Linked DNA regions of Homo sapiens. The protein of the gene in region 2 purifies or fractionates together with the protein of the main gene of each other region. This does not show direct contact. Each region holds a gene or a part of one and is shown on either strand. Other genes may lie near its edges.

What was found.
Region 1: the proteins of SFRP4 (region 2) and ANKHD1 purify together in Homo sapiens (affinity purification with mass spectrometry, with the first as the bait; 3 studies listed by BioGRID). This does not show direct contact.
Region 3: the proteins of SFRP4 (region 2) and TUBB1 purify together in Homo sapiens (affinity purification with mass spectrometry; 3 studies listed by BioGRID and IntAct, with this or other methods). This does not show direct contact.
Region 4: the proteins of SFRP4 (region 2) and PPP2R3A purify together in Homo sapiens (affinity purification with mass spectrometry; 3 studies listed by BioGRID and IntAct, with this or other methods). This does not show direct contact.

What each region holds. Positions count from the first base shown.
Region 1 is NC_000005.10:140,502,603-140,509,861, forward strand, and holds part of ANKHD1 (ankyrin repeat and KH domain-containing protein 1), read left to right. Parts: intron 1-2,218; coding exon 2,219-2,364; intron 2,365-2,519; coding exon 2,520-2,631; intron 2,632-3,121; coding exon 3,122-3,267; intron 3,268-4,232; coding exon 4,233-4,375; intron 4,376-5,182; coding exon 5,183-5,396; intron 5,397-7,034; coding exon 7,035-7,210; intron 7,211-7,259. Other genes in the region: ANKHD1-EIF4EBP3 protein, read left to right, coding at 2,219-2,364, 2,520-2,631, 3,122-3,267, 4,233-4,375, 5,183-5,396, 7,035-7,210. UniProt on the Homo sapiens protein: May play a role as a scaffolding protein that may be associated with the abnormal phenotype of leukemia cells. Isoform 2 may possess an antiapoptotic effect and protect cells during normal cell survival through its regulation of caspases.
Region 2 is NC_000007.14:37,913,788-37,921,321, forward strand, and holds the start of SFRP4 (secreted frizzled-related protein 4 precursor), read right to left. Parts: upstream 3,031-7,534; 5' UTR 2,751-3,030; coding exon 2,306-2,750; intron 667-2,305; coding exon 586-666; intron 492-585; coding exon 426-491; intron 1-425. Other genes in the region: EPDR1 (mammalian ependymin-related protein 1 isoform 1 precursor), read left to right, coding at 7,153-7,421.
Region 3 is NC_000020.11:59,014,669-59,022,670, forward strand, and holds the start of TUBB1 (tubulin beta-1 chain), read left to right. Parts: upstream 1-4,760; 5' UTR 4,761-4,854; coding exon 4,855-4,911; intron 4,912-8,002. UniProt on the Homo sapiens protein: Tubulin is the major constituent of microtubules, a cylinder consisting of laterally associated linear protofilaments composed of alpha- and beta-tubulin heterodimers.
Region 4 is NC_000003.12:135,996,634-136,003,892, forward strand, and holds part of PPP2R3A (serine/threonine-protein phosphatase 2A regulatory subunit B'' subunit alpha), read left to right. Parts: intron 1-4,425; 5' UTR 4,426-4,865; coding exon 4,866-6,860; intron 6,861-7,259. UniProt on the Homo sapiens protein: The B regulatory subunit might modulate substrate selectivity and catalytic activity, and might also direct the localization of the catalytic enzyme to a particular subcellular compartment.

The DNA.
Region 1 (7,259 bases), on a different chromosome or scaffold from region 2:
GGGACCACTACTGAAGTCTTACTGTTAGAAAGGTTCTGTAACATATTAATCTTCAGTGTCTTGTTTTTTCAAGCAGTTTTCCAAACATATCAGCTATTTTGAGGAGGTGTAACAAAATAGTATCTGCTTTTAACTCATTGAATGACAACAATTTTTCATTATTACTATTATTTTTTTCTTGGCCACTTCTTCCAGGAAAAAAATGACAAAAAATTTTAAGGCTTTGTTTCCATTTTGCATATTCTTATAGGTGAAACAAACATATGTAATAATTATTCCTATTTGTAACTAAATAGTTAAATTATGTTATTTATGTGATGACAGAAGCTGGAGAAATTTGTATTGCCAAGATGGTTATATATGTTGGTGGGGATGAGCTGGGTAGCTCATGTAGAAATATATCTGGGCATCTTAAACTTTGCTCACTTATTTAAACTAGTAATCTACTAAACTGAGTCATTCACACTTACGAATAGTATCTTTGAATGGGATCTAGTCATATCAAAAATTCTAGAGAGAAAATATTTTCCAACACTTAAAATGCTTACATTTTTCTTTAAGTCCTACGTGTTTTTGACTGACTTTTAATCTGGGTGCAAATGTAAGGTTATTGCCATCACTGATGCTTTGTTGATTTTTTTGTATATTATTACTGATTATATGTTTTTTTCTGAGTTTTTCCTTTCTTGAGTGAATAATGTTTTTATTTTTCAATACAATGAATAATAGTATTGACAATCCTATAAAATATCTGATAGTTACATCTATTGAGCACCCACCATTTGCTAAAAACACTGTGTTAAATGCTTTATATACAGTATCTCTTAGACTACTCACAACATCCCTGAGATAGGTCCTGTTTCCCCCCGTGGTCAAACTCCATCTCTTAAGAAACATAAGAAATTTTCAGAGATATAAAATACATAATTTCTTTTAACTCAGTTTTCTTTCTTTTTTTTTTTTTTTTTTTTTTTTTTTTTTTTGAGATGGAGTCTCACTCTGTTGCCCATGCTGGAGTGCAGTGGTGCGATCCTAGCTCACTGCAACCTCCGCCTCCCAGGTTAAAGCGATTCTCCTGGCTCAGCCTCCCGAGTAGCTGGGCTTACAGGCGCGTTCCACCACTCCCAGCTAACTTTGTGTTTTTAGTAGAGACGGGGTTTTGCCATGGTAGCCAGGCTGGTCCTGAACTCCCAACCCTCCTGACCTGAGGTGATCTGCCCACCTCAGCCTCCCAAAGTGCCAGGATTATAGGCGTGAGCCATCGCTCCTGGACTTAACTCAGTTTTCAAACCACATTTTGAGATCTCAAATAGAACTTCAATGTTCATTTTAAAAATAGTTGGACTTTCAGATACTGATTTTTTAACAAAGTTTCAAAATAAATATTGAATTTAGGAAACACATACTCCCTGCTATTTATGTGAGAAATACTTGAACTTGTCTCCCTCCCCTCCCCCACCCTTTTTTTTAGATGTAGTCTAGCTCTGTCACCCAGGCTGGAGGGCAGTGGCGTGATCTCAGCTCACTGCAGCCTCCACCTGGGTTCAAGCAATTCTTCTGCCTCAGCCTCCCAAGTAGCTGGGATTACAGGCATGTACCACCACACCTGGCTAACTTTCTGTTTTTTTTAGTAGAGATGGGGTTTCACCATGTTGGCCAGGCTGGTCTCAAACTCCTGACCTCAGGTGATTCACCCGCCTCGGCCTCCCAAAGTGCTGGGATTACAGGCGTGGGCCACTGCGCCCAGCCCCCTTTTTTTGAATTGTACACAGGATATTTTTATCTAATTGACTTTTTTACAAACTAAAATCTAGAATTCCTTTTATTTACTTTTATTTTTGGAAATTTTTTTTCCTCCCTGTTGGCAATGCAAAAAGCTACTATTTAATGTATGTGCACTAAATATCAGGTGCTGTGTTAAGTATTTTATCTGCATTGCCTCAGTGGTCTTTCCAATAACCTTCCAAGGCAGGTACCATTATTTTCGCCATTCTACATATAGGGAAAATTGAAGCTCAGAGAAGTTAAATTACTTGCCCAAGATCAGAAAGTCAGTGTTGGAACTAATATTTAAATGTAGGTCTGTCTGATTCCAAAGCTTGTGATTTTACTATTACTACATATTACTGCTATGGAAATTTCTGTTTTTGTGTTTTTCTATGTACAAATAACCTTACTCTTTTAAGTGGAATTTAGCAATATGAATATTGTTTTTCAGCTGTGAGTACCAGAGTGCCCACTGGTTCCAACAGTTCTTCTCAGACCACAGAGTGTCTTACACCTGAATCCTGTTCGCAGACTACAAGCAATGTGGCTTCCCAATCGATGCCTCCTGTGTATCCTTCAGTTGACATTGATGCACATGTGAGTAGATTGCTTTATTTAAACTTATTTTGCACATTCTGATCTTCTTTGGAAAGGAAAATTATTCTGCATTTATTGTGAAAAGAAATATTATTTGCTCTTAAATTGATAACTTCTGTTAAAAAAAATTTTAACTTATTTTTTTCTTCTCCTAGACTGAGAGCAATCATGACACAGCATTAACACTAGCTTGTGCAGGTGGTCATGAAGAACTTGTATCTGTGCTCATTGCACGGGATGCCAAAATTGAACACAGAGACAAAAAAGGTAAATATCAGTCAGAAATAAAATCCAAGTGTAGTTACATCAGAAAATAATTAACTTTTTTATTATTGATAAATAGTTCCTAGACTATCTCAGTGATAAGATGGATAAGTATATTTCAGTTAGGAATATCTGGATTCATTATTCTGCGGAGCCAAATAATTCTCAAAACATTCAAAAATTAGACGTAGATCATTAGTGAAATAGAGCAAGTTGTGGTTGCCTTTGTTAATCCAAAGGTAGTTCATACAGAGGCATCAAAGTTCATTATGAGTATAAACTTTAATAATTTTTACCGACTTAGTTTTTTAATTAGGTGTTTATGGGTTTTTTGTCACTAACAAATTAGGGTTTAGAGCAGTTTTATGTTAACTCATTATCAGTGTCTGCCCTGAAGGATTTATTTTGCTAAAATACTAGAGAATTGTAAACAGTGGCTTTAAAATAAAATAAAAAACATAAATTTGTTTAAGATTTTCATTTTCTGATTTAGGTTTCACACCACTAATCCTGGCAGCAACAGCAGGGCATGTTGGAGTTGTTGAAATCCTTTTGGATAAAGGTGGAGATATAGAAGCACAGTCTGAACGAACTAAGGATACTCCGCTTTCATTGGCATGTTCTGGTGGACGTCAGGAGGTGTGTTAATGTTAATTTTCATTTTGTAAATATTTTGCTTGTATTTTAAAATATGCATATGATTCGTATTTTAGCTACATGAATAAAATTTGCATGTATTTTGTGTGTTTGTTTTTCTGAGGCAGGGTCTTGCTCTGTCTCCCAGGCTAGAGTACAGTGGTGCAATTACAGCTCGCTATAACCTTGAACTCTGGGGCTCAAGCAATCCTCAGCCTCCCAAGTAGCTAGGGCTGTTTTGTAGAGATGGGGTCATGTAATGTTGCCCTGGCCGATTTCAAACTCCTGGCCTCAAGCAATCCTCTCTCCTCGGCCTCCCAAAGTACAGGGATTATAGTTATGGGCCAGCATGCCTGGCCCTGCACGTATTTTAACATGTTCCATATACTTTCTGAGGAATGGGTACTTCTGTTAACTTTTATGGGAATGTAAATGCCCTTTTTTTTTGGCGGGGGTTTGTGGAGGGAACAGGAGGGTGGAGATGAGGTCTCATTATGTTGCCCAAGCTGGCCTTGAACTCCTGGCCTCAAGGGATCCTCCTGCCTTGGCCTCCCAAAGTGCTGGGATTATAGGCATGAGCCACCATGCCTGGCCATAAATCCCCTTTTAAAAAATCTGTTTCTTGCCCTTAAAGCCAAATAAAAATTATCTTAATCCTTACATTTATTCGGATTGAATGAATCACAATTCTAACACATATGAAGTGCAAATTTATTGCCCAATAAATGGCAAATAGAAAGGGTAACATCTTGTTATTGCAGTATAATTGGGATTTCAAAACTCTGAATTCCTGAAATTGAATCCATTTCTCTAGTGTTGATATTTCAATATTTAGGGTCTAATGAAATGTAATTAAAATATCAGATATTTAGATAAGGAAGTTATAAGTCCTGTTTCTTTGTGTTTCCTTCATTATAAGTTGAGCCCTTGGTGTAAACTCTCTTCTCTATCCATATTTTACTTTGTAGGTGGTAGACTTGCTGCTGGCTCGAGGTGCAAATAAAGAACATAGGAACGTATCTGATTATACACCACTGAGTCTAGCTGCGTCTGGAGGATATGTTAATATCATTAAGATTCTGCTTAATGCTGGGGCAGAAATTAATTCAAGGTATTGCCTGTTCATTTTATTGTTCATGTTTAGTAAGTTACTACTTTGGACTTAAATGTCTACCTCTTAACGTTTAGACAGATACATTTTAAATTAAGATAGTACTAAAGTTGCAAAGCCAACGATTATACCTATAATGTGTTTGTTTATAAGTAATCTCAGCTTATTTCAGTAATGTGGCTGCTTATAAAGAGGTCTCATTTCAAAAAGTGTTTTGTTCTATGGCCTACCACCCTAAACGTGCCCAATCTCATCTGATCTCAGAAACGGTATTTTATTTTATATAGTTGGAAATTTATAATCCCTAAATAGGAATTACATTTTATTTTTTAAGTTATTTATTTTTTGAGATGGAGTTTCGCTCTTGTTGCCCAGGCTGGAATGCAATGGCGCGATCTTGGCTTACCGCGAACTCTGCCTCCGGGGTTCAAGCGATTCTTATGCCTCAGCCTCCCAGGTAGCTGGGATTACAGGCATGCGCCACCACACCCAGCTAATTTTGTATTTGTAGTAGAGATGGGGTTTCTCCATGTTGGTCAGGCTGGTCTCAAACTCCCGACCTCAGGTGATCTGCCCTCCTTGGCCTCCCAAAGTGCTGGGATTACAGGCATGAGCCACCATGTCTGGCCGGAAATTATGTTTTAAATTGTGACATTTTCTTATTCTTTATTATTGGTCGAAACAAGTAAAATCTATTCATTGATGTTAGAAACCTCTCTTTTTAGTGAAACCTTTTCATCTTTAATGCTTTTCTAAAATAATAGGCAACATATTATTTTAATTTTCTAAGCACATTTCCCCCTTTAGGACTGGGAGTAAACTAGGTATTTCTCCCCTGATGTTGGCTGCAATGAATGGACATGTTCCTGCAGTAAAATTGCTGCTCGATATGGGTTCAGACATTAATGCCCAAATAGAGACCAATCGGAACACGGCTCTCACCCTGGCCTGTTTCCAGGGCCGAGCAGAAGTAGTGAGTTTGCTTCTGGACCGAAAAGCCAATGTTGAACATAGGGCAAAGGTAAGCATTTTTTACTTGTCAACTATTTCAGATACATTTCTGTAGAAAGAACATGGCATTTTAACGCAAATTGAATATAATATTTTAAATTATCATAAATTAAAACTGATACCAATGCAGAGTTGAGGGATTATGCTGTATAATAGTGAGTGACATACTGTCACCATCATGACTTTTATTAAGGACAATGAAGAAAACAGAATTAGTACTTTTCCCAACCTCAGCCTTGAGTAGCTTTCTATTAATACTGCAGCTTACAACTTTTGAATGTAGTAAGATTATTTTGTATTAACTCTTACACTGTAGACTTTTAAAGAACACCTTTAATGAGGTATGTGCTTATCATTGTAAAAATCCCAAGCAAAAATTTAATTCACAAGTTATAAAATTAGGGCAGCTAACATCTAATTTGACCATGGCAGATTTTGACAGTTTCATGACTATTTGGTATTAAGAAAATAGGAGTTAGTGGAGGCTGGGCGCGGTGGCTCACTCCTGTAATCCCAGGACTTTGGGAAGCCTAGGCAGGTGAATCACATGAGGTCAGGAGTTTGAGACCAGCCTGACCAATATGGTGAAACCCCCGTCTCTACTAAAAGTACAAAAAATTAGCTGGACGTGGTGGCAGGCGCCTTTAATCCCAGCTACTCAGGAGGCTGAGGCAGAAGAATCACCGGAACTTGGGAGGTGGAGGTTGCACTGAGCAGAGATCACGCCATTGCACTCCAGCCCGTGCAACAAGAGAGAAACTCCATCCCACCCCCCGCCCCCACAAAAAAGAAAGAATAAAGGAGAAAAGTCATAAGATAATCTCCATAGATGCAGGAAACACACACAGAGGAAAGAAAATAGGAGTTAGTATGTCATTGGCTTGAATTTCTTTGCTTAGAACTGCAAGGTTCTTAGAACTCTGGAAAGACGTAGGTTGGGTAGAATTTTTAATAATTAGTCAACAGAGAATCTAGTGCTCATTTGAAATTGGAAAGATTTGACTGGAAATCTCGTACTTCTTCCCTGAAATTCCTTTTACTTCTTAAAGTTTAGTGCAACATTTACATTCTTTTAATCTAAGTAATGAGGAAGTGTAGTTTTTCCTTGGCTTTTTACCACACAAAGAGAAATGAGTCTTTCCTGTCATTCAATTTGTCTTTTTCTATTACAAGTATTCATTGTGTGCCACTCATCCATTAAAGGTCCTAGAGAAATCTGTGTTATTTTGGATAGTACCAGTAGGAAATGTCCTTTGAAAAAATGTTGGAGACTAACGTACCAAAGGCACATATGCAAAAAATTTATAAAGTGATTTTAATCTACTTATTTTTAATATCTCTATTCATTATGCAAAGAAATTATCTGAGTAAATTCACAAAAGTATAGAAGTTACAGAATTGTTTTTAGCATGAGATAACATGTTTTAAGTTCATTCTAGCACGTCTGAATCTAACAATTTCTACTGCTGTTTAGTAAAATTCAAGGCAAAATATTGCTTAGCTCTTTTATGAGAGCTAATCAGAACTAGAATTGTCTTAAAAGTTAATTGCCTCAGGTTTTTAAAGAAATTATGTAGCTTAGTTTTGGTCTACGGAATAGTTAAAAAAAGAAATGTAACTTAGTTGCATAATTTATTGGTTTAAACAGACGGGTCTTACCCCCTTGATGGAAGCAGCTTCTGGAGGGTATGCAGAGGTTGGAAGAGTTCTTCTTGATAAAGGAGCAGATGTTAATGCTCCCCCTGTGCCTTCCTCAAGAGATACTGCTTTAACAATAGCAGCAGACAAAGGTCACTACAAATTTTGTGAACTCCTGATTCATAGGTGAGTACTTTTCTATTATATGTAGAACTTCTCATGGTCATTTTCACTT
Region 2 (7,534 bases):
TAATTGTCTGGGCCTATGGGCCTTAATTCTCTGACTCTCAGATAATCAGATCCATGGATCATTCTCTCATTCTTCCTGCAGCAGTAAAACCTCAGGAAGAGAACAGGTGGGGTGTGCCATCAGGGCTGATAAGCACTTCTCACCAAGACAAGGAGGATCAAGATGTCAAATTTTCAATCTGATGCATGTAATTTTTATCACCTGGGTCATTTCCTTTGTTTGCACTTGATTCATCCAGAAAAGCAAGATATTTTGCAGTTGTTATTGTGCCATATATTAATAGAATTCACATGATCAACTGGAAAAATAGTCAACCTTTTGTTTTCTTTACTTTGTGACTAGCTTTAGTGAGAGCGACCTTATTGAGATTCCAGCTTTGTAATGAACCAAGTCTCAAAAGTAAATGGCTTTAACAGACGACTTACCATAGCTGTAGTTTTTGCTGAGATACGTTGCCAAAGTTGGCTTCACCTTTTTACACTTGCACCGATCTAAAAAAGGCAGAAGAGGCAGAAAGTTGGAAAAAGAACAGAAATCACTCTGGAGAGGAGAAGTAGAGGGAACGTCCATGAAGAAAGAACTCACCGGGGCTTAGGCGTTTACAGTCAACATCAAGAGGCCTTTCCTGTACCATCATGTCTGGTGTGATGTCTATCCACTTAACATCTGAAACACAAACAGGGCCACATGGGCGTGGTTGGTGATTTGGTCTGTTCACCCAGCTGGTATAAAGAGCCCTCTGAAGATATAAACTAAAACAGTATCTCAAAATAATAGTATTTAATGGTAAAAATGGGCCAGGCGAAGTGGCTCACACCTGTAATCCCAGCAGTTTGGGAAGCCAAGGAGGGCAGATCACCTGAGGTCAGGAGTTTGAGACCAGTCTGGCCAATATGGTGAAACCCCATCTCTACTAAAAATACAAAAATTAGCCAGGCATGGTGGTGGATGCCTGTAATCCCAGCTACTCTAGAGGCTGAGGCAGGAGAATCGCTTGAACCCGGGAGGCGAAGGTTGCCGTGAGCTGAGATTGTGCCATTGCACTCCAGCCTGGGCAACAGAGTGAGGCTCCATCTCAAAAAAAGAAAACAAGACAAAAAATATTTATATAAGTAAAAACGGCATGTGATTGTTGACTTCTCCTTTCATAATGATATCCAGGGCTTAGGAAAGAAATCCTCTGGGGGAATATTTGCCTATCCAAGCACAAATCGATGTGAATGTATATCCATTTAACCTCACTGGTATATACAACCAAACTGGATAAATCACATCACTCTCTCCCAAAGTCATATTTAAATGTTGATTTTCCAAGTTAACAGTTTATGTTAATCAAAATAACCAAAATATTTCCAAATCCCTACCTCATATCTTGCAGTGCAGAAACAGTTCACAGGTATATAACCAAAACCAAGCATAACCCTCTATTATTTATATAATTTAAACAATAAATATGTTTTCTTTCCTAAAACTCTAAATTAGAGAGGAGTTTCCATTTACCCTGTTCACTTAACCACTCCTCCTTCATGTTTAGAGCAATGCTCTGGGGTATAACTTCAGAGATTCCAGCACAGCAATATCATAGTCTGTTTAAATGTGGGGTAACCTGGGCCAGATAAAGCCTGGATAAAAGAATGCAAAAATATTCCTAGGTTTCATTTCAAGAAGTGAATTTAAACCTCTCCTTCTTTTTAGAAAAGCAGTCAAATGACCAAAGAAAAAAGAAGGAAGTGGAAGCAGAGATGGGGTTAACTAAAATGCCACTGTAGTTGGCTCCGGGCCAATGACTATGAAACAGACCTCACAATTTTCCAGGGAAACTGCAATTACAAATCTCACTCCTGGTGGGAAGCAATGACCGTTACTGCTTTTTCAGAAAAAAAAAAACTTTTTAAGAAGTAGCGCTAAATGGAACGAGTATTGGCACCTGCTTGGTGAGATTATTTTGGGCATTAAATGAGTCAATAACGTGTAATGTGTTTAACACTTGCTCAGACACCTAGCAACACCTGTTTACTGCTATTATCATTTCTGTTATTACTATAAATGCAAACATCATCGAAGGCTCCCTTTGTAAGCAAAATCTTTTTTTTTTTCTTTATGGGGTGCAGTGCTCTCCGCTAGCTCCTAAAATTCCTATGGGAGAAACCAGACTTTTTCTGAAGAAAATGTTTCCCCCATTCTTTCCCACCTCCTACAAGCCTCAGACGCCCCTGGCAGCCTTAGGTGTGGCCGCCCAGTTCTCGATTGGCAGCCACAGCCCCGGGCGCCTCCTCGCCTCCCTCCATCCTTCCTACGGCCTCACCCTCCGGGAGGTCCGTGACGATGGCTTCAGGCGAGATGCACACGCCACGGTCATAGACAGGCAGCTCGTCGCAGGCCAGGCTTTCGGGCCAGCTGTGGTTGTACATCTTCATGAGGGGCTCGCAGTCGTCGCGCGCGCGTTGGCACACCGACTTGCACGGCTTGATAGGGTCGTGCAGGAACTCCAGGGTGCAAATGGGCGCGTACATGGCACAGAGGAAGAAGCGCAGCACGGCGCTGCAGTTCACGTCCACCAGCTCCTCGTACTGCTCGATGGCCAGGATGGCGTTCTCCTGCGTGCTGTGGTGCAGGTGGTTGGGCATCCGCGTGATGTTCCAGGGCATGTGCCGGCACATAGGGATGCGCACCGCCTCGCAGGGCGCGCCGCGCACGCCCAGCGCCAGGTGCAGCCACAGGCACAGCGCCACTAGGATGGAGAGGAACATGGCACTGCCCTCTCGCGCTGCGACCCCGGCAGACAGAAAGCGCCCTTCTCTTCCTGCCACCCTCATCTTTCGCTGTCCCTTCGCCGAGGAAGAAATCCTCTGGGGCGCAGGAGAGTTTCTTCCCCCAAACTCCAGTCGGCAGCAAAGCGGGGCCGCGGGGTCCGGCCGCGGAGCTCCGCCGTCTGGCACACAGGGCACGAGCAGCGCCAGCTCTCAGCCTTCGGGGCGCGAACCCGCCCGGGCAGCTCCAGTCCCGGACTCCGCAGCTCGGAGCGCAGCCAGCCACGGCCATTGCGGGACCCTATTTATCCCGACACCTCCCCTGACGTGGGCTCGGAACGCTCCCTTGGCAGCTGCAGCCGCGGCGCGGGCTCCCCCTCGGCCGCCCCACCCCCAGGCCCGTCGGTGCAGAAGCGGTGACATCACCCCCTCTGGGCCGCAGCCCAGGGCTGGAAGCCTGCTTTCCCCCTAAAGTCCCTCCTTTTTAGTCTGGCCAGTCTTTTTTCTTCGGACCAAGAAAAAGAACCTCTGGCAGTTGTTTTCGACACCGGATACAAGAGGGTGCGGGAGAGAATTTCAAGAGAGAGAAAGACACTCTTTGGCTGAAAACTGAACTTTGCTCCCTCTGCCTTAGAGTTTTTCCAAGTATAGAGTTGGGGGAAAATAGGAGCTTCTGCTGCCCTCTAATTCTGAAATATATTTGCTTTCTCCGGTAGGGGGCATGAGGAGCGCTGAGGACAGTTGGGACAATGTCCTGCAAGGCAGGCGAGAGTGCAGTGAATGTCAGAACAGGAGGGTCACGTTGTATAAATCACTCCCACTCCGCCCTTAGTTGTGTGGAGTGTGGTTTGTTGTTGTTGTTGCTAGTAGACAGTTTGGGCCGAAATTTTTCCAGTATAACACTTGGTTTGTTTCTGCTCCAGGAAGTTAACAGAACTGGGGGAAGGTGTGCTAGCATCTTCCAGCTTCAGAAATGTCTTCTAACATTTCCTCTTCCTTCTAACTCCCTGTTCCCCTCTGCAGCATTAGTGGAACCCAGGAGAAAACATTGGGCACCACAATCTGAAAGGTCTCCCCTGCTCTGATCCTTCATGCCAAAGGATTTCCACCTCAGCAGCCTAAAATCTTGATTTTTGATGTGCTCAGAGACTGTTGCTTGAGTTGAGTAAGAAGCTGTGTACTATGGGATGCAAGTATGTATGTTTTGCTTTCTCTTTTATCTTACTTGCATTAGGAAAAGGTAGTCCAATTGCTGGCTCAGCTATCTACAGAAAAGGGAGGATTTATTTATATGAGATTGATGTATATCAATCTTCAGGTGGTAAGACTTCTGGTATATGCTATTTATTAGGGCATCAGCAATATGGAAACATGTTCTCTGAATGTTAATCTTTAAAAACATAGTTTAACTTGAATTTAAGGCACATGGTTTTTCTCTCCAAAGCTTAAACCTACACAATTAGTTTAGTTTTGACTGAGGATTAAAACTAAAGACTAAGGATTAAAACAGCTGAGGAAACAACAAGCACAAGTGACATCTATTGGGAATTTACAATGGTCAAGGTATGAAGCTAAGAACTTTAAATGCATTATCTTATTTTTTAGGGAACATGAATTAAACATAGTAAGTGAAAAGGATAAATGAGACAAATACATTTCAGGATTCATCCAAAGAGTCTGGTTCTTATTTAGGGGAAGCCCAGGGTGTTCTTACACTGCCAAGCCACTCTAGAAAGGTAATCTAGTTCCTATAGAACCAGTCTCCACCTCCAAAGATGCCAAGCCAGGCTAGTAAAATATCACATGAGGAGGAAAGCCCAGATGACATCTCAAGCCATTTCTAGCAGTAAACTCCAATGAGTCTAAACCCTTCACTGGGTGAAAAAGATTTTCAGCTGGAGTTCCTACCTGGGGAGCAAGAGAAAGAGCTGAACTACCCTACACTTTTCCTATGAATCTGAGCAGGGCAAACTCGGAGAGGGCTCAAATTTCTGCAGCCAGTTTGAACCTGCTGCATCTGTTTAACTATGTAAGTACCAAGTCACAAAGTCTTATGGGCTTCCCTGATGTTCTCTGAGGCATGCCCTTTAAGAAAAGGTAAGAGGAAATGAAGAGCCCTTCTTCCTAAAGCTTTGTGCCTGCCCCATTCGGCCCATTGGTAGTGTCTCTGGTGGTTCGACAGACAGGGGGCAGCAGAGAAGGATGCATCAGGAAAACCTGTCAACTGTCCCTCCTCTTCGGGACTTCCAGGGAGGCTGTGATTCTAGAACACCCTACTTCAGCATTCAGTCCATTCTTTCCATGCCTTACATTTATTTAACAAGGCTCGGGAAGTTGCCTCATTCAGTGGCTTCTCTCTGGTGACTCCTTTTGGTCTCCTCAAGTGCCTGTTCTTTGCCCATCCTTTAAATGTCTGGAGCTCTCTGGGGCTCCATCCTAATCCTTCTTCTCACACTCAACACTCCCCTGAACTCCAGGTTTTCTCACCCCCAACACTTAGGACATTTGGGGCCAGATAATTTTCTCTTCATTTGGGAGAGGGGAGGTGGCTGTACTGCACATTGTAGGAAGTTTAGTAGCATCCTTGGCCTCTACCCACAAAATGTCAGCGGTAGCCTCCTCCCCATCTACATTGTGATCATCAAAAATGTCTCCAGATATTGCCAAATGTTTCTTTGCTGGGGAGGGGGATGTGAAATTTCCCCAGGAACCACTGTTCTACTCTTCGGCTTCATTTACCACCTATGTACCTATGGCTTCCTAATCCAAAAGCTCTGCTGGTTTCCAGAAGTATTTATCCAGCTGTCCCTTGGATATTTCCACCTTAATACTCCACAGTCAGCTCAAGATCAACCAATCCTAAAATGAATTGATCATCTCTCCTCACTCAGGACTGGATTCCCAGTGGCCCAAACCAGAAACCTCTCTCTCTGAGTTGAAATGCTTCTCTACAGCTCCCACCTGTCTTCCACCCTTTCCATGACCACTCCCGCTGCCTTAGCTGAGTCAGGATCATCTCTTTCCAGGATGATAACAGTAGCTTCCTCCTCTCCCTGCCTTCCCTCTGGCCCTACCCTTTCTGTTGTCTAAGTGGGCTTTCTAAAGCATATGCCTGATGATGCTCCTCCCTAGCTTTACATTGATTGATAGTTCCCACAGTCCTCAATATCAATGACAAATTCCTTAAAATGAGTGCTATGGCTTCAGAGTACTCCTCTACCTTGTCCTTGAACCCCAGCATTATTCTTTTCTTGTCCTTATGCCCTTCATTCAGGAATGTTATCTCCCACTTTCACCTGGCTCAATCTTAATCATCCTTGAAATGCAGTTCAAATGGAAAGACGCTATACATTTTTTTAGTTCCTTTCTTTTTTCTTGATTTCATACTTTATCACTATATTTTTAGAGACAGGGTCTCGCCATGTCACCCAGGCTGGATGGAGTGCAGTGGCATGATCATAGCTCACTGCAACCTCTAACTCCTGGGCTCAAGCGATCCTCCCACTTCAGCCTCAGGAGTAGCTGGGACTACAGGTGTGTGAGCCTCGCTCATTCCATATTATAGATCCTAACATTACATAACTATAAACCCAATTAACCTTATTCTTGAAGAAGCGAAACCCCCCAGACACCCAAACCACTCGGCTGGTGGTATTGCCAGGCGATGGGAGGAGCAGTCTCACTGCAATGTGACCTTGAGGCTATGTCCATGAGTCCTAGGCCCAATGCAAGGGGCTGTCTACTAGTCTCCTAGACTCTTCACTGGGAATGGGAGCTGAGGAGCGGCCATGATGAATAGCTAGTATCATTTCTTCAGGAAAAGACTCGTCTTTCCACTTTTAATTTGGAGGAAGAAGTTTGCAATTTTGTCGAGGGGCAATGTAGGCGGGGCAAACGTTTGCACAGCAAACGCAGCAGCTCTGCTTTTCCTATCTTGACCTTGAACTTGCCCCTCCCTGTGTGATTACCTGTTGAACACTGAAGTTAGTGGAGAAACACACTTCTCAGCACAGTCTCCCCCCATCCCCCCTCTTAAAACACGATGCCTCCCAGGATGCTAGTGGCACCACTGCCACTGCATTTCCTGTTGGCAGCAGTGAGCAGTGAAAACCGAAGCGGCAGAAGGCAGTGGCAGCAGGCAGTGGCAGCAGGCAGTGGCCCAGGCAGAAATAGCTCCCGCGCGATTCACTGGAGCCTTCCCCGGGCCCTGGTCCCGGCTACCGGGACTCGCGCGTCCGGATCTCAAAAGCGGCAGAGGCCACCGAAGGGACAGGAAGCACTTTGGTCCAGACCACACTCCCGGCACAGTGCGGAAAGAGCCGGCGGGAGCCACTCTGATCCCGGACGCCTCAGCGCCCCCTTGGGCTTGGGCTTGCCCTCGGGCCGGGGAAGGCTGACCGCGATGCCAGGACGCGCTCCCCTCCGCACCGTCCCGGGCGCCCTGGGTGCCTGGCTGCTGGGCGGCCTCTGGGCCTGGACCCTGTGCGGCCTGTGCAGCCTGGGGGCGGTGGGAGCCCCGCGCCCGTGCCAGGCGCCGCAGCAGTGGGAGGGGCGCCAGGTTATGTACCAGCAAAGTAGCGGGCGCAACAGCCGCGCCCTGCTCTCCTACGACGGGCTCAACCAGCGCGTGCGGGTGCTGGACGAGAGGAAGGCGCTGATCCCCTGCAAGAGGTACAGGTCATCGGCCCGCGGGGCGGGAGTAGGGAGCCGCGCGGGCATGGGGAGGGCGAGGTCGCAGAGGCCTGCGCCCTGTAACTCTTTCCGGCCCCTTGCAGCTCCTCCCT
Region 3 (8,002 bases), on a different chromosome or scaffold from region 2:
TCATTTGCCAAATGGAGGGTGGGGGCAGCTCCATCTGACCCCTGGGGGATAACTCCTGGGGGAAGTCTGGAAGCAGCCGATTCGGGGTTTCTGGGTGACACTGGTTTTTCTTATCTTCCCGGTTCTATTTCTGTAATAGACGCAAGTGTCATGCAGGAAAAGGCTTGCTGCTGCGGAGCCTTCTGTGGATGGCTGTGACAGGCCACTGGAGGAGAGGGTTTCAGGCTCAGGGCTGGGCTGGTCCTGGTTGGGAATCTCAGTGTTGTGGGCCATAGCGTCCTCACCACACTTGCTAGGAGGAAGCTCCTGCCCTCTGGGGCAATGCTTGCTGATCTCCTCACCTAAATGCAGGCACTGCTAACCTGCCTTGGTCACAGCCCTTTGTTGGGGGGGCAGAAAACAACTTTGTCACTCATCACAGTGGCCACTGTGAATCGCTTGCTGCAGCTCAGGACGGGGGCCGTCACCTTCAGCCTGGCAAAACAGACCTTGGGGTCGTGCCGGCATCTCCAGGGGCAGTGTTCGCCTATGTCCTGCACAGGGCCCGCTTCTACCAGTCCGAGGGCAAGGCAGACTGTATTCCCCACCTCACTGCTGGCACTAAGGTGGCAATCAGAGGAGAGCTGTTTCCTCTGGGGAGCAGGTACCTTCAGAAACAAGGACAAGAGAGCTGAGACGGGACGCACGGCTTTCCAGACCTGCTGCCTTTCCTGCCACTCTGTTCTGCCCAGACATTTTAAATTGAGACAGGCCCCGATGTCCACGGCCATGTCAAGTCTGCCACACAGTAGGTGCTCCGTCTGTAGGTGTGGAATGCATCTCCCCCTCCCACCCTGCGAAGCCCACTTGAAAAATACCACCGGCAGCCACACGTTAGGGGTCAGCCCTGGCAGGCCCAGTCCTCACACCGACTTGTGACGTGGGGACTTTTATTTCATTTTTCACGTGAAAAAGTTCAGGTCTAGGGCGGAGATGGGCCCCTGGGTGGCGGAGCTGCCACTCCGTCCCTCACCCTCTCACAGCCCAGCGTCCAAAGCTCAGCACTCGCCTGGCCTGAATTAACATGGCCGGCGATACAAGAATCAAAGCAAACAGGGCTTCTCTCTTTTTCCTCCTTTTTGCCAACTGCCCCATTAACAGAAAAACCTTTTAAGCGCCCACCTGGAAACCTGGCTTTTTCCCCTCCCTAAGCAAACTAAGATGGCCAAGAGGAATGTGCTGCAGTGCGGAGGGTGGGCGGAGGACCCCAGCAGCCTGGATCCTGCTCACATGGCAAACAGTGAACCCAGGCAGACCAGAAATGCCCCTTGGGCCCAGCCCCGTGGTCCCTGCAGCAAGGCGGTTTGTGGCCAACAGGGGCTCCTTTCAGGAGCTGGGCCACAGAAGGCCACGGCTGCCCACCGGTCACACCTTCCCGTAATAGCTCACTGCGGTTATTCCATCTATAGTCTGTCCCCAACATCCAGGTTTCTTGGAACAGTTTATATCTCCAGCCTAGACCACCTCTTATGGAATGGAGGAAAAAGGTGACCCCACCTGGAGAAGGACACACTCGTGAATAAATACATCACTGGCTTTAAGAACACAGCCCGCTCTGAGCATCACTGCTCAAACCTGCCCAGCTGTCAGTGTGCCCTTAACAAACATTTACTGAGGCCCTGCCATGGATCAGGCACTTTGGGGACTCAAAGATGAAACGACACAGGCAGCTCCCAGGCTGGCGGGAGATAAGGCATGTGTATAAGTAATTAGCAAACAGGACTGTGTGTGGGCACTGCAGGTTGAAGTGCTCTGGTCCCCAGGAGAGGAAGTGTCTCTGATGAGGGACCTGCCTGTGGGAAGATCATGGAGCTGTCTTTGATCTTCGGAGAAGTCTGGTAGGCAGGGGCCCCTGGGTGGGGAGGGAGGCTCGGGAGAGCTGGTGGGGACAGAGACAAGGGGAAAAGAGGCCAAGGCACGCCAGGAGAAAGGCTGGAAGTGAGGCAAGATGGGCTAATGTCTATGGAAACAGAATGGTCTATTCTTAATTTTAAAATGGTCTGTTTTAATTTCTGAAAAATATTGCTGGGGACCTATGAATAGGTCTGTTTTAATTTAAACAGATCATTAATAAAATGGTCTGTTTTAATTTCTGAAAAATACTGCTGAGGACCTGTGAATATCCTCCTCTTGAATTTGCACATTCTTCTCTTTACCTTTGGGCAGGGAGGAGGGGTGACTGGACCGGAAGCATCTGTGAGTCATGTGACATTCAGGTTTGAGCACAAAAAAGTTCCAAACTTAGAGAAATGTTACAAGGGTATTAATCTTGTGCTAACTTTGAAAAGAACCAGCAATTGTTACCACTTTGCCCCTTTGCTGAACTGCCCTCTCTCCGTTTATCACGTTATGTGGTTGTGGAACTGTTTCCCAGTAAGCTGCCAGCATCAAAACGACCTTGAAGCACAGTGCTTCATAATATGGGATCTCCTGGAAACAAGGACTTCCACTTAGAACCACCCTGCCATGATCAAAGTCAAGAAATGGAACACTGATACAATACTATTTTCCAGTGTACACAATCCTTATTTGAATTTTGACAATGATCCTCATACCATCCTCTATAGCAGCCCTCTTCCCTGGTCCTGGATCCAGCCCAGGATCATGGGGTGCACTGTCAGTACTCAAGGGCAGCCTGGGATCTACACACTAGACAGAGGTGAGAAGCAGTCCCAGTCCAGGCACTCTTAGGACACAGTGCTTTCTTCTTCCCCACCTCTGGGTTTCTCTTCTGGTTTATAGCTCAGGCCCTTTGGCTGTGTGTTTGAGCTCCTTTGGGAGTAAGCAGAAGCGATTTCCCCCAGACACTCCATCGTTAGGAACTTTCCTGATTGTGTTCCTGACCTCACATCCTGGGCCCCACCAGGCCTGTAGAAGGAACACAAGGTTTAGGAGTCAAGCCTGGGCTTGGGGCACAGGAAGCACAGGCCCCTCATGGACCAGGCTGGGCTCCAATGCTTCAACCAAGGTCACGGGTCTGGCGAGAGGCAGGGGAGGGAAGGACCTCCAGGGCTTCTCGCTCTGAGTTCAGTAGTCTTGCCTGTCCTGAGTCCCTGTCCTGAGAGATGGTGTCCTTGAGCTGCTCCAGAGCTAGGAGTGCTCTCTTCCTAAGTAAGCCAGAGTTCCAAGAGTGCAGGATCTGGCCACATCTACCTCCTTCATTCCCTTGTCTGCAGCGCCCAAGGTGAGCCCAGCCTATGACAGGTCCCCGTCCATAGCTGTTCAAAGAATGGGGGCAACCTCAGGGTGCCCGGCAGACGTTAAAGAGAGGCCTCAAGAGGTGGTTGCTCACCGGATGGTGGTTGTCCACATCCTCGGGGCTTCAGGAGTGAGGCCTTGCCCTGTACCTGCCCACCTGCACCTCGACAGCTCAACAGGCACAAGGCAGCGTCCACTGGCTCTCCCCTTCCGAGCCAGGGCTCTCACGCCTTCTCAGGGAGTCCCTTCCCCATCTTCCTTGGAAGCTTCCACCTTCTGTCCTCCAGGCGGTGGGGAACTGCCACCCTCCTGGGCAAGGATATGGAGCTGGTGTTTGGCCTGGATGCCCTTGCCTGGTTGGAGGTAATAAAGCCTAGGGCTGGCTTTCGACGATGATAGAAACTTGGTGGCAGGGGAGGTACTGAGGACCAGGAGACAGAACAGCTGCTTTCAAGCTGCTGAGTACCCAGCCTGCTGCCACTCCTGTACACCGCATGAGGGAATGCTTTTTTTTTTTTTTCTGACAGAGTCTTGTTTTGTCGCCCAGGCTGGAGTGCAGTGGCATGATCTCGGCTCACTACAACCTCCGCCTCTCAGGTTCAAGCGATTCTCCTGCCGCAGTCTCCCGAGTAGCTGAGACTACATGTGTGTGCCACCACACCTGACTAATATTTGTATTTTTAGTAAGAGATGGGGTTTCGCCATGTTGGCCAGGCTAGTCTTGAACTCCTGACTTCTGGTGATCTGCCCACCTTGGCCTCTCAAAGTGCTGGGATTACAGGAGTGAGCCACCACACCCGGCTCTAAGGGAATACAATTGGGAGTCCGTTTTGCTCTTGGAGAATTCAGGGTCTGGTAAAGGGACCCTATGGCAAACATTAAGACCCCAGACACCATGAGCTGAGATGGGACGACAGAGCAGGGGCTGGGAAGGGTGCTGGGGCACAGCCCAGCCCTGGCATGGATAGGGCAGGGGTCCAAGAGACCTGCAGGACACTGCAGAGTAACTTGCATACAGGGCGAGAGAGGGCATGTGGGGGAGGGCGGGCAGACAGTGCCTGATGCAGGCCATCCCGGGACCTGGGACCTGCGAGGCCCAGTTGTGGAGCCTCCTGCTGTGGCGGGGCACGGGGCTTCTGGGGACCAAAGTCTGGAAAAGGGGCCGGGAAGATGGACAGGGAAAGCCCTTGGAGGTGGTCTGGTTACCTGGGTGAGCTAGGAGCCACAGTCATCATACCACGGTCACTAGGGCCAGCATGGTCACCTAGAAGCCTGCAAACAGTGCCAGCCTCCAGGCCCTGTGCCCCGAGGTGGCCTTTAATCTTGCACTCACTCTCTAGGAAATGATGGGGCAGTATTCTGTGTTGAGGGAGGAAAAACACTCCCTTCCAAAAGCATGACAGGCAGAAAGCAGAGAAGGGCCAGGACTGGCTGAGGGCGGGGAGCTGGGCCTCTGGGGTGGACACACCCTTGGTCACATTGTGAGGGTAGCTTGGTTGGCCAGTCCCACCACTGCAGTGACCACAGTTGTGTTGGGCTCACACCAGTGAACCGAAGCTCTGGATTCTGAGAGTCTGAGGATTCCGTGAAGATCTCAGACTTGGGCTCAGAGCAAGGATGCGTGAAATTGTCCATATTCAGATTGGCCAGTGTGGCAACCAGATCGGAGCCAAGGTAAGTAATGTCTGGTTACTAATCCTAGCTTTACCACAGTCCATAGAGGCGGACAACCAAAAAAATACCCTAAGTTAGCAGGGAAGACAATAAGTCTAGCAGATTTAATGTACTTGCTAAATATCAGACAATGCCTTTGGGCTTTAATTCTTAAAAAAAAATTTCACATGGGAAAAGAAGGAAACAATCTTTAACTAAAGAGCTACAACACACATTAAGTGCTTAGAGTGTTAATTTAATTAATGTTAATTTTATCCATAGATACATATGTACAATACATGCCGACCATTATATTACATAATACGTTTATCATCTTTTTCTTTGCCCACTCTGTTGCCCAGGCTGGAGTAGAGTGGCAGAATCATGGCTCACTATAGCCTCAACCTCCTGGGCTCAAGCTATTCTCCTGCCTCAGCCTCCTGAGTAGCTGGGATTACAGGCATGCACCACTATGCCTGGCTAATTTTTAAATTTTTTTTTGAGAGACAGGGATCTCACTTTGTTGCTCAGGCTGGTCTTGAACTCATGGGCTCAAGTGATCCTTCTGCCTCAGGCTTCCAAAGTGGTGAGATGACAGGTGTAGGCCACCGTGCCTGGCACTTTTATCATCTTTTATTTTTTTGAGATGGAGTGTCACTCTTGTTGCCCACGCTGGAGTGCAATGGCGCAATCTTGGCTCACTGCAACCTCCACCTCCTGGGTTCAAGTGATTCTCCTGCCTCAGCCTCCCCAGTAGCTGGGATTACAGGCATGCGCCACCACGTCTGGCTAATTTTGTATTTTTAGTAGAGATGGGGTTTCACCATGTTGGTCAGGCTGGTCTCGAACTCCTGACCTCAGGTGATGTGCCCGCCTGGGCCTCCCGAAGTGCTGGGATTATAGGCGTGAGCCACTGTACCTGGCCCACTTTTATCTTAACAATGAACTTTTCATATCTAAAAACAGTAATTTGTCTCAAAACAGCTTTTTGAAGTTTTTTGAGAAACTTTCTGTACCCTGTCACTATGGTGTCTTTCCCCTCCCCTCTCATGTTTATTGTAACGCTTAAAAAAAATCAATTACTGTTTTATTAGTATGCAATTGAAAATTTAAGAAATTTAATTGAAAATAAAAGTTTTTTGTGTACAGTAACATAATTAATTAAAATACACTGTCTGGAATATAAATGAGTTTTTCTTTCCCTTGCCCCCCTGCTTAAAAATTTCCCCCAAGTACGTAACTTAATTGGCCAACCCCAAGAACACAGATGCCCGAACCCACAATCTCCAATCTTGATTTTAAGATGACCAATTGCACCGTGCAAAATTTATCGTGTTCTCTTTGCTGCTGTGAAATTACTTTTACTAATATGAGATGCATTAAAAGTGAGGTTTTGAAACACCTACATTCATCATCCATCAATGACACTTGGGTTGTTTCTGCCTTTTGGCTACTGTGAGTAATGCTGCCAGGAAACAACTAAGGCTTTTAAATGCAGGCGTTTTAAACCGGGGGCAAGGAACATTACTGCTTGAAAAGAAGTCACCATTCCTCCATGCCTCAGGGGTAAGACATTCATAACTCACACACAGAGAAGTGGGAGGCAGGAGCCCTGCTGCTCTGAAGCTGGAAGATAATACGGAAAGGGGCCCTCAAGAGAAAGTGTTAGGTTTAGATAGGGTTTTAGCTCTCACTCTGGAATCGTATGGTCTAGCGTTGAGAGTCCTGGCTGACTCATCATTTAGAGATATAAGAACTTTAAGACACATTTAATTTGGGGTATCTTAGAACTTGAATTTATTTATTCTTCCACTCCCTGAACAGTGCTGGCAGTTTACCATGAACTGCCTTGTTATTAAGACCATGGCCAGAGCAGCACTGTCATTTAGAAGATATGGCTGGGGTTTTTAACATACCCTTGGGGATTTTAATATATGTGAATACATTTTCATTGCATTTTAATATGTGCCTTTCAGGGTGATCAAAAGGAGTCTTCCCAGTAACTGTTTCCATATTAAGAGCTTGGCACATATCTATATTAATAAGTACTGTGTATGTGACTGGAAGTGCAGTATGTTTCAAATAGTTACCAGAGGACAACTATGTGTAATTGTGAGTTGTATGTATACCTGACAATCAAAAATGCACATTACTGGCCGGGCACAGTGGCTCACGCCTGTGATCCTAGCACTTTGGGAGGCCGAGGCAGGTGCATCACCTGAGGTCAGGAGTTTGAGACCAGCCTGGCTAACATGGCAAAACCCTGTCTCTACTAAAAATGCAAAAATTAGCTGGGCATGGTGGTGGACGCCTGTAATCCCAGCTACTTGAGAGGCTGAGGCAGGAGAATTGCTTGAACCCAGGAGGTGGAAGTTGCAGTGAGCCAAGATTGTGCTACGGCACTCCAGCCTAGGTGACAAGAGTGAAACTCTGTCTCAAAATAAATAAATAAACAAACAAACAAACAAACATAAAAAAATAAAAAAAAGAAAGAAAGGCCGGGTGCTGTGGCTCATGCCTGTAATTCCAGTACTTTGGAAGGCCAAGGAGGGTGGATCACAAGGTCAAGAGATAGAGACCATCCTGGCCAACATGGTGAAACCCCGTGTCTACTAAAAATATAAAAATTAGTTGGGCGTGGTGGTGCGTGCCTGTAGTCCCAGCTACTCAGGAGGCTGAGGCAGGAGAATCGCTTGAACCCAGGAGGCGGAGGTTGCAGTGAGCCGAGATCACGCCACTGCACAGATAAGACTCCATCAAAAAAAAAAAAAAAAAAGGCGCTAATTACTTAAAATCATGCACAGAGGTCCAAGTTATGGGCTGTTTGGAAAAGTTCATGAAAAGAAATCCCCAAAGTGAAATGAGTTATTACTGTGAAATCAGATAAGAATTCAGTTTATTTTCCTTTAATGGAATCTACACTTTACTAGCTTGGAGCATTATAAGGAGAAATTAGAGCTATATTGACATTAAATTCTAAAACAACAGCTTTAATGTATATAATGGCATGAATTTAATAGGAGGAAAATCCAATTTAGTACTTTGTGTTTGACATTTTATTTAAGGAGTTCAGGTGGGGAGAAAATGCAATCTTCATATTACTTCACATTGC
Region 4 (7,259 bases), on a different chromosome or scaffold from region 2:
TATTACTTCATACTTCTTTTTGTATTCTGGCCTTCACGAGAAGCCCTAGATCAAGCTAGTCATTTGTACCATCTCTACTTCTACATCAGTCCTGCTCAGTGTTTCAGGATCTATCCTTACTTTTGCCTGTTCCTAATCAGATACCTCCTTATTTTCATTAACATCTATTTCAGATTTTCACTATCTTCCCAAATTCCTTAATACCTCTCCTGCCCCCTAAACTTTAATCAATAATTTTGCTTTCAGTTTCACTGAGAAAAATTGAACCTGTCATGGAAAAAAATTCCTTGTATTTTTCTTCTTCCATTTATAAACTGGTTTCTTTCCCCCTGCCTCACTAGGAAAGGTATCCACCTTCCTCTGAGACTAATCCCCTCACCAGGGCTTTGGCTACTAGTTCCTGGGTCCTCAAAGCTTTTTCTGGATCTTTCCCTTCAACATGTACACAAGCTCAAATATCTTCTGTCCTTTAAGAAAAAATTCATATCTCCATTCTCTTCTAGCTGCCGTTTTATAGCCCTCCTTTTCTTAGCAAAAAAACTAATGGAAAATCTAGTCTACCTACACCACTTTTTTTGACACCAAGTCCCTGAAATTGCACGTGATAAGGATACCAGCAACCTTCATATTGGCAAATCCAGTTTTTTGTTTTTCCTGGACCTCTTAGTAACATCCAGTGCTAGTGACCTCCATTTGGAAAGTCCCTTCTTCAGCCTCCATAAAACTGCTTTCTCCTGGTTTTCTTGTTATCTTTTTCTCTTTCTTCTTAGACTCCCTCTAAGAATTCTGTTCCTCTCTTCAACCCAGAAATGTCATTGATCCTCAACTTTTCCTCAGTCCAGAGCTCCCCTCACTTTATGCACTCACCCTGAGTAAATTCTCAGAGCTGCGTCTCCAACCCAGATCTTTCTGCTGACCTCCAGGTTTTTGTGTTCACATTTCATTCAGTCATCACCACTTAGATATTCCACAGGTACCTCCTCAAACAACACATTCAGAAAATAACTTTATCTGTCCTGTGGCCACCCCCTGTAAAACAAAAACAAAAAGTCTGTTTTAGGATTAGCAACACAAGTCTCCCAGTACTTAAGCCAGAAATCCAAGATTCCTCCCTGTCACTTTCCCCTCCTGCTGTTCTATGGATTCTTCCTCCTGGGCTAATCAGTGCCCTCCTCTTTGTTATTACTGTCACCTACTTGGTTTAGATTCTCATCACTTCTTGCATGGATTATTATCATAACCTCCTAATCGATTTCTAGGTCTTCAGTCTGGTTCCTATCTATCCTCCACTCAGGTGCTACAGTGATCTTTCTGTAACAAATTTCATCGTGTTACTCTTACTCTCTAGCCTAAAAGTCTTTGTTTTTCTCATAGCTTTCAGAATAAAGTTCAGACTCCTTAGTTTAGCATACAAAGGCCAACTGTGATTGGCTTTTGCTGCTGCTGCTGCTCTGTTTTCCTGCCCTCTTGCTTGTCTCTATACGCCCGCCAGTGAAACTGGCTGGAACTACTTGTACTTCGGCATTCACTGTGCAGTGTTCTGCCTCTCTGCCTTCACATATGTGTTTCCCTCTACCTGGAGTATTCTTCCCTTCCTTTTTGTCTAAGTAGCTCTCATTGATCCTTCAAAATTATGTACCTACATCGCTATATTTCAGGAAACTTTTCCTGACTCCTCAGTCTGATTCAGATGCTCCCTCTCAAAACAGACAAAGGACATGAAGAAAGGCTTCACAAGTGAACAATGACAAAATGTCTAATAGGTAAATGAGAAGATATTCAGACTTACCAGCAATCAAGGAAATGAAGATTAAAACAATGTACTTCCATTTTTTTCATCAATCAAATTACCAAAAATTTAAAGAGAGGAATCAGTCCAAGAAAACATGGAGAAACAGGCCCTCTTCTAGATTGGCCCTATGTATCTAATGACTTTTTTTGAAAAAGTATATGTACACACACACACACATCTTTTGACTCAACATTTTACTGTGTGGAATATATTATAAGCAAATAACTGGAGAGCTATGTAAAATATATGTAAAAGAATGTTTATCACTGCTTATTTGAAAACAAATAGTAAATAACCTAAATGTTCAGCAATAACAAATGGCTAAATTTATTTATATGATAGAATGTTATTCATTAAAATGATCTATGTCTATTTTGACCTGGAAGTACATTTGTGAGATATTGTCAAAGTAAGTTATAGTATGGTCCAAATTTTGTAAAAAATACATACATTTATAAATTTTTGTAAGAGAAAGTTAAAGTATATACATAAGAATATCAACAGTGTTTATTTCTGCTTGTGAATATTGTCCAGCTTTTCTGAAAAGAACATTTATTAATTGGGGGAGCAAAATGGGAGAAACTTGGCCTCACTCCCAATAGCTGCTGTGCTTGCTTGCTTCTGTCACTGCCCTCATTAAACATTGAGCACTCCGAAGACATCACTATATGTCATTTGGCATCATTCTCCCAGGGTCAGGCACAGAGTAGGAAATGTTTGATAAGTGAATTAGAGCAATAACAGCAATAATATTTATTGTGCATTTACTGAGTCTTAGGTACTGTTGTAAGCATCTGACATATGTTAACTTAATCTTCATGAGATGGGTATTATTATTCTCTCCATTTTGCCGTTGAAACAGACTGACAAGGTTAACCACCTTATATTAGGCCACACTGGCAGGATTGGGCTTCAAAACCATGGAGTCTAGCTTTCTCTTAGACGCAGGACTGCATGGTGCTTCTGAGTTAGGTTGGATCTCTGATTGAAAATAGTGGATTAGATTCCATGTCTAAGATTCCATCTAGTTAACTGGGCATCAATTGAATTATGGTCTGAATAAAAAGGCAGAATTTGACACCCATGGGTCTGAAACAAATAGCAGGGAAAGTAATCTTTGATTCTTTGGCATTTTTTTTTTAACTCAAATGATTTTAGACTGTAAATTTCTCATTGATAGTTGGTGCTACCCCTTGAGGTTTGGTTTTCTGCTGTTGATGTCCTTTCAAAACTTACTCAAAGACCTAAATTTGTGATTCGTTCTTTTAAGTCTTGCCCCATCCCCTTTTTCTTTCTCAGCAAGATGACTCGTGAAAAGTTCATCAGATTTTTATTTATTTACTTATTTTTATTTTTATTTTTTTCTGAGATGGAGTCTCGCTCTGTCACCCAGGCTGGAGTGCAGTGGCGTGATCTCGGCTCACTGCAACCTCTGCCTCCCGGGTTCAAGACATTCTCCTGCCTCAGCCTCCCGAGTAGCTGGGACTACAGGCCATGTCATCTCCCACATTGTCTCCTTGCTTTCTCTGCTCCACCCACTTTGGTCACTTTGCCATTCTTTTAGTGAATCACGCATGCTCCACTCTAGGGCCTTTGTACTTGCGGTTATTCTACCCTGGAGGATTTACCTCATAATACCTCCTTGGCCTCCTTCCTCTAGTCTTTCAGGTCTCTGCTTTTCAGATGTCAGTGAGGTCTTCTCTGACAACCCTTCATAAAACAGCACCCTCCCAGCATTTCTAAACCCTTGCCCTGCATCATTTTTCTCCCCAACACATGCCACCATATGATAAGTTTATATGTTTAACTTGTATGTTGGGTTTTTTCCCCTTGTTTTATTTCCTGCTCTATCCCTAGTGTATACAAAGAACCTGGTACACACAGTAGGTAGTCAGTATTTGTTGACGGAATAAATACATTGACAGAACCTTCTTGGAAAGCAACTACAGTATATTTTAAAAGCTGTTCTTTAAAAAGAATGATTAAGTAAATTCTGTCCACTTGATGCAGAGAGAGAGATATCCACATGGAGCAGGGTCTGGGAGATGGGATCAAGATCAGTAATGAAACTTGTGTTTTCTTTCAGTAAGCAAAAAGAAGATGATGGGAGAATAATTTCTAGGAGTAGAGGAAGTTTGAGACTCAAGAACAGGTACTAGGTGTTGGTAGTCTTTGAGAAGACTAGGTTGATGGAAGCAAAAGGTTGGTGCAGGGACATAGTAGAAAATATGATTATAGATGGATTGGAACAGGTGTTGAGGGACTTAAAAGTGAGTCAAAAGAGGTAGACTTGCTGTGATCCATGAGGAAATCAGAAGTGTGAATTTTTAAGCTGTGAGGGATGAAAATGCCGTGTAAATCTAAGCTTCTTAATATCATATAAGGTGGCAAGGAGCATGCAATAAGAAATTCATCTCAGAGGCAGATGTGACAAGGCAGAGTTGAGGTAATATTACTCTAGGCAATAAGGAGTATAAGGTGTGATGAAACAAAGGCATGAGTTGAATATCAGCTGTAAGGGATATTGCAGATAATAAAGCGTGGTGGTTAACTGCAAATGGGATGCAAAGAAAGAGGAAATCAAAAGTTCCAGCATTAAAAAAATTTCCTTTTAATTTTTTTTTTTATTACAGGTTTCTCTGTCATTCACAGAAAAATGAATCATTTAAACCTTTGGAGGACTCAGTTATCACAATACTTCTCTACTACCAACTAAGATTTATGATAGTAAATTTATGAGAGCAAATTTCCATGTTATAGAACTGTTGAAGAACTAAAAGAGGATATTCTTTCATCAAAATAATTCTGCAGTATCATAATATTACTAAATAAAATTAAAAAGCACAATTATTAAATTATTAAATTTGCCACACATGTGCAGCAGCTACTGTATCCTGATAGTGACCAAACCTCAAATATAAATGGTTTCCCTTCATGGGAAAAGCCATTATATTTGGAAGAAACCACTGAACATTGTTATTAAATATATTTTCAGCTAACTGTCATTTAGGAGAATTTTCATGAAACAAGTTCTAGAAAGTTCCAAGTCCCACCAGTAAGTGGATTTGATATTATGGCAGCAACTTACAGACTTGTGGTTAGTACTGTGAACCACTACAGCAGCGTGGTGATAGACCGGCGTTTTGAACAAGCTATACATTATTGCACTGGAACCTGCCACACCTTCACACATGGAATTGACTGCATTGTGGTACACCATAGTGTTTGTGCAGACCTCTTGCACATCCCTGTGTCTCAGTTCAAAGATGCAGATCTGAACTCTATGTTTCTACCCCATGAAAATGGGCTTTCTTCGGCTGAAGGAGACTATCCCCAACAGGCCTTCACAGGCATACCCAGGGTCAAGAGAGGATCTACATTTCAGAATACCTACAACTTAAAGGATATTGCAGGAGAAGCAATCAGTTTTGCCAGTGGGAAAATAAAAGAATTTTCCTTTGAAAAACTCAAAAACTCTAACCATGCAGCTTACAGAAAGGGAAGGAAAGTTAAGTCTGACTCATTTAATAGGAGGTCAGTTGATTTGGACTTGCTTTGTGGCCATTATAACAACGATGGGAACGCCCCATCCTTTGGTTTACTGCGGAGTTCCTCAGTTGAGGAAAAACCTTTGTCTCATAGAAACTCACTGGATACGAACCTGACTTCCATGTTTCTTCAAAACTTTTCTGAAGAAGACTTGGTTACTCAGATTTTGGAAAAACATAAAATAGATAATTTTTCTTCTGGGACAGACATAAAGATGTGCTTGGACATCTTATTGAAATGCTCCGAGGATTTAAAAAAATGCACAGACATCATAAAACAATGCATAAAGAAAAAATCAGGGAGTAGCATCAGTGAAGGAAGTGGTAATGATACAATTTCTAGCTCTGAAACTGTCTATATGAATGTAATGACCAGGTTAGCATCCTATCTGAAAAAGTTACCATTTGAATTCATGCAGTCTGGGAATAATGAGGCTCTAGATTTAACAGAACTGATCAGTAATATGCCTAGCTTACAACTGACTCCCTTCTCCCCAGTGTTTGGCACTGAACAACCCCCTAAATATGAAGATGTTGTCCAGCTCTCAGCTTCTGACTCTGGACGATTTCAAACTATTGAATTGCAAAATGACAAGCCTAATTCTAGGAAGATGGACACTGTACAATCCATTCCAAACAACTCCACAAATTCCTTATATAACTTAGAGGTAAATGATCCTAGAACTCTAAAAGCTGTCCAGGTCCAATCACAGTCATTAACCATGAATCCTTTAGAAAATGTTTCTTCTGACGACTTAATGGAAACTCTTTATATTGAAGAAGAGTCAGATGGAAAGAAAGCATTAGATAAAGGACAAAAGACAGAGAATGGACCTAGTCATGAGTTATTAAAGGTAAATGAACATAGAGCAGAATTTCCAGAACATGCTACTCATCTTAAAAAATGCCCCACCCCAATGCAAAATGAAATTGGTAAGATATTTGAGAAATCATTTGTTAATCTACCTAAGGAAGACTGTAAATCAAAAGTTTCTAAATTTGAAGAGGGAGACCAGAGAGATTTTACAAATTCCAGTAGCCAGGAAGAGATAGATAAATTGTTAATGGATTTGGAATCTTTTTCACAGAAGATGGAGACCTCTCTAAGAGAGCCACTTGCGAAGGGTAAAAACTCTAATTTTTTAAATAGTCACAGTCAGTTGACCGGTCAGACCCTTGTAGATCTTGAGCCTAAATCTAAAGTCTCTTCACCCATAGAAAAAGTCTCACCTTCCTGTCTAACAAGGATTATTGAAACCAATGGACACAAAATAGAGGAAGAGGATCGAGCCCTCTTACTGCGAATCCTGGAAAGCATTGAAGACTTTGCTCAAGAACTAGTTGAATGCAAATCAAGCAGAGGGAGCCTATCACAAGAAAAGGAAATGATGCAAATTCTACAGGAAACCTTGACAACTTCCTCCCAGGCCAATTTATCAGTCTGTAGAAGTCCTGTTGGTGATAAAGCCAAAGATACTACTTCAGCAGTTTTGATTCAGCAGACTCCAGAGGTGATCAAGGTAAGACCCAACAATTTTGAGTCCTAGGAACTCTTTAAAAAATGTTTAGTGTTTGAAAATTTTATAAAGAAAAACTTTTTTGTTAGCCATTTTTTGTTCTACTAAAGCTCTGCCCTACACTAGGAATGATCTCACTCAGCTCAGAGTCAGTAAAAAGCAAAGATTATACAAGATGATAGAGGAAAAAAAAAAAGCAAAGACTTTAGACTCAGACTGGTTCCTACTGCCCTCCCCATACCCTTCATCTTCTTCCCAGCTCTGTGACCAAAGAAAAATTACTTACCTTTAATATCCTCATCTTTATGGTGGAAATAATAAGGATCAAAATAACTTGTGTGAAACATAAGCAAGGTTCCTTACACAAAGTAGGCATTTAATATTAGTCGTCACCCTCCCCAG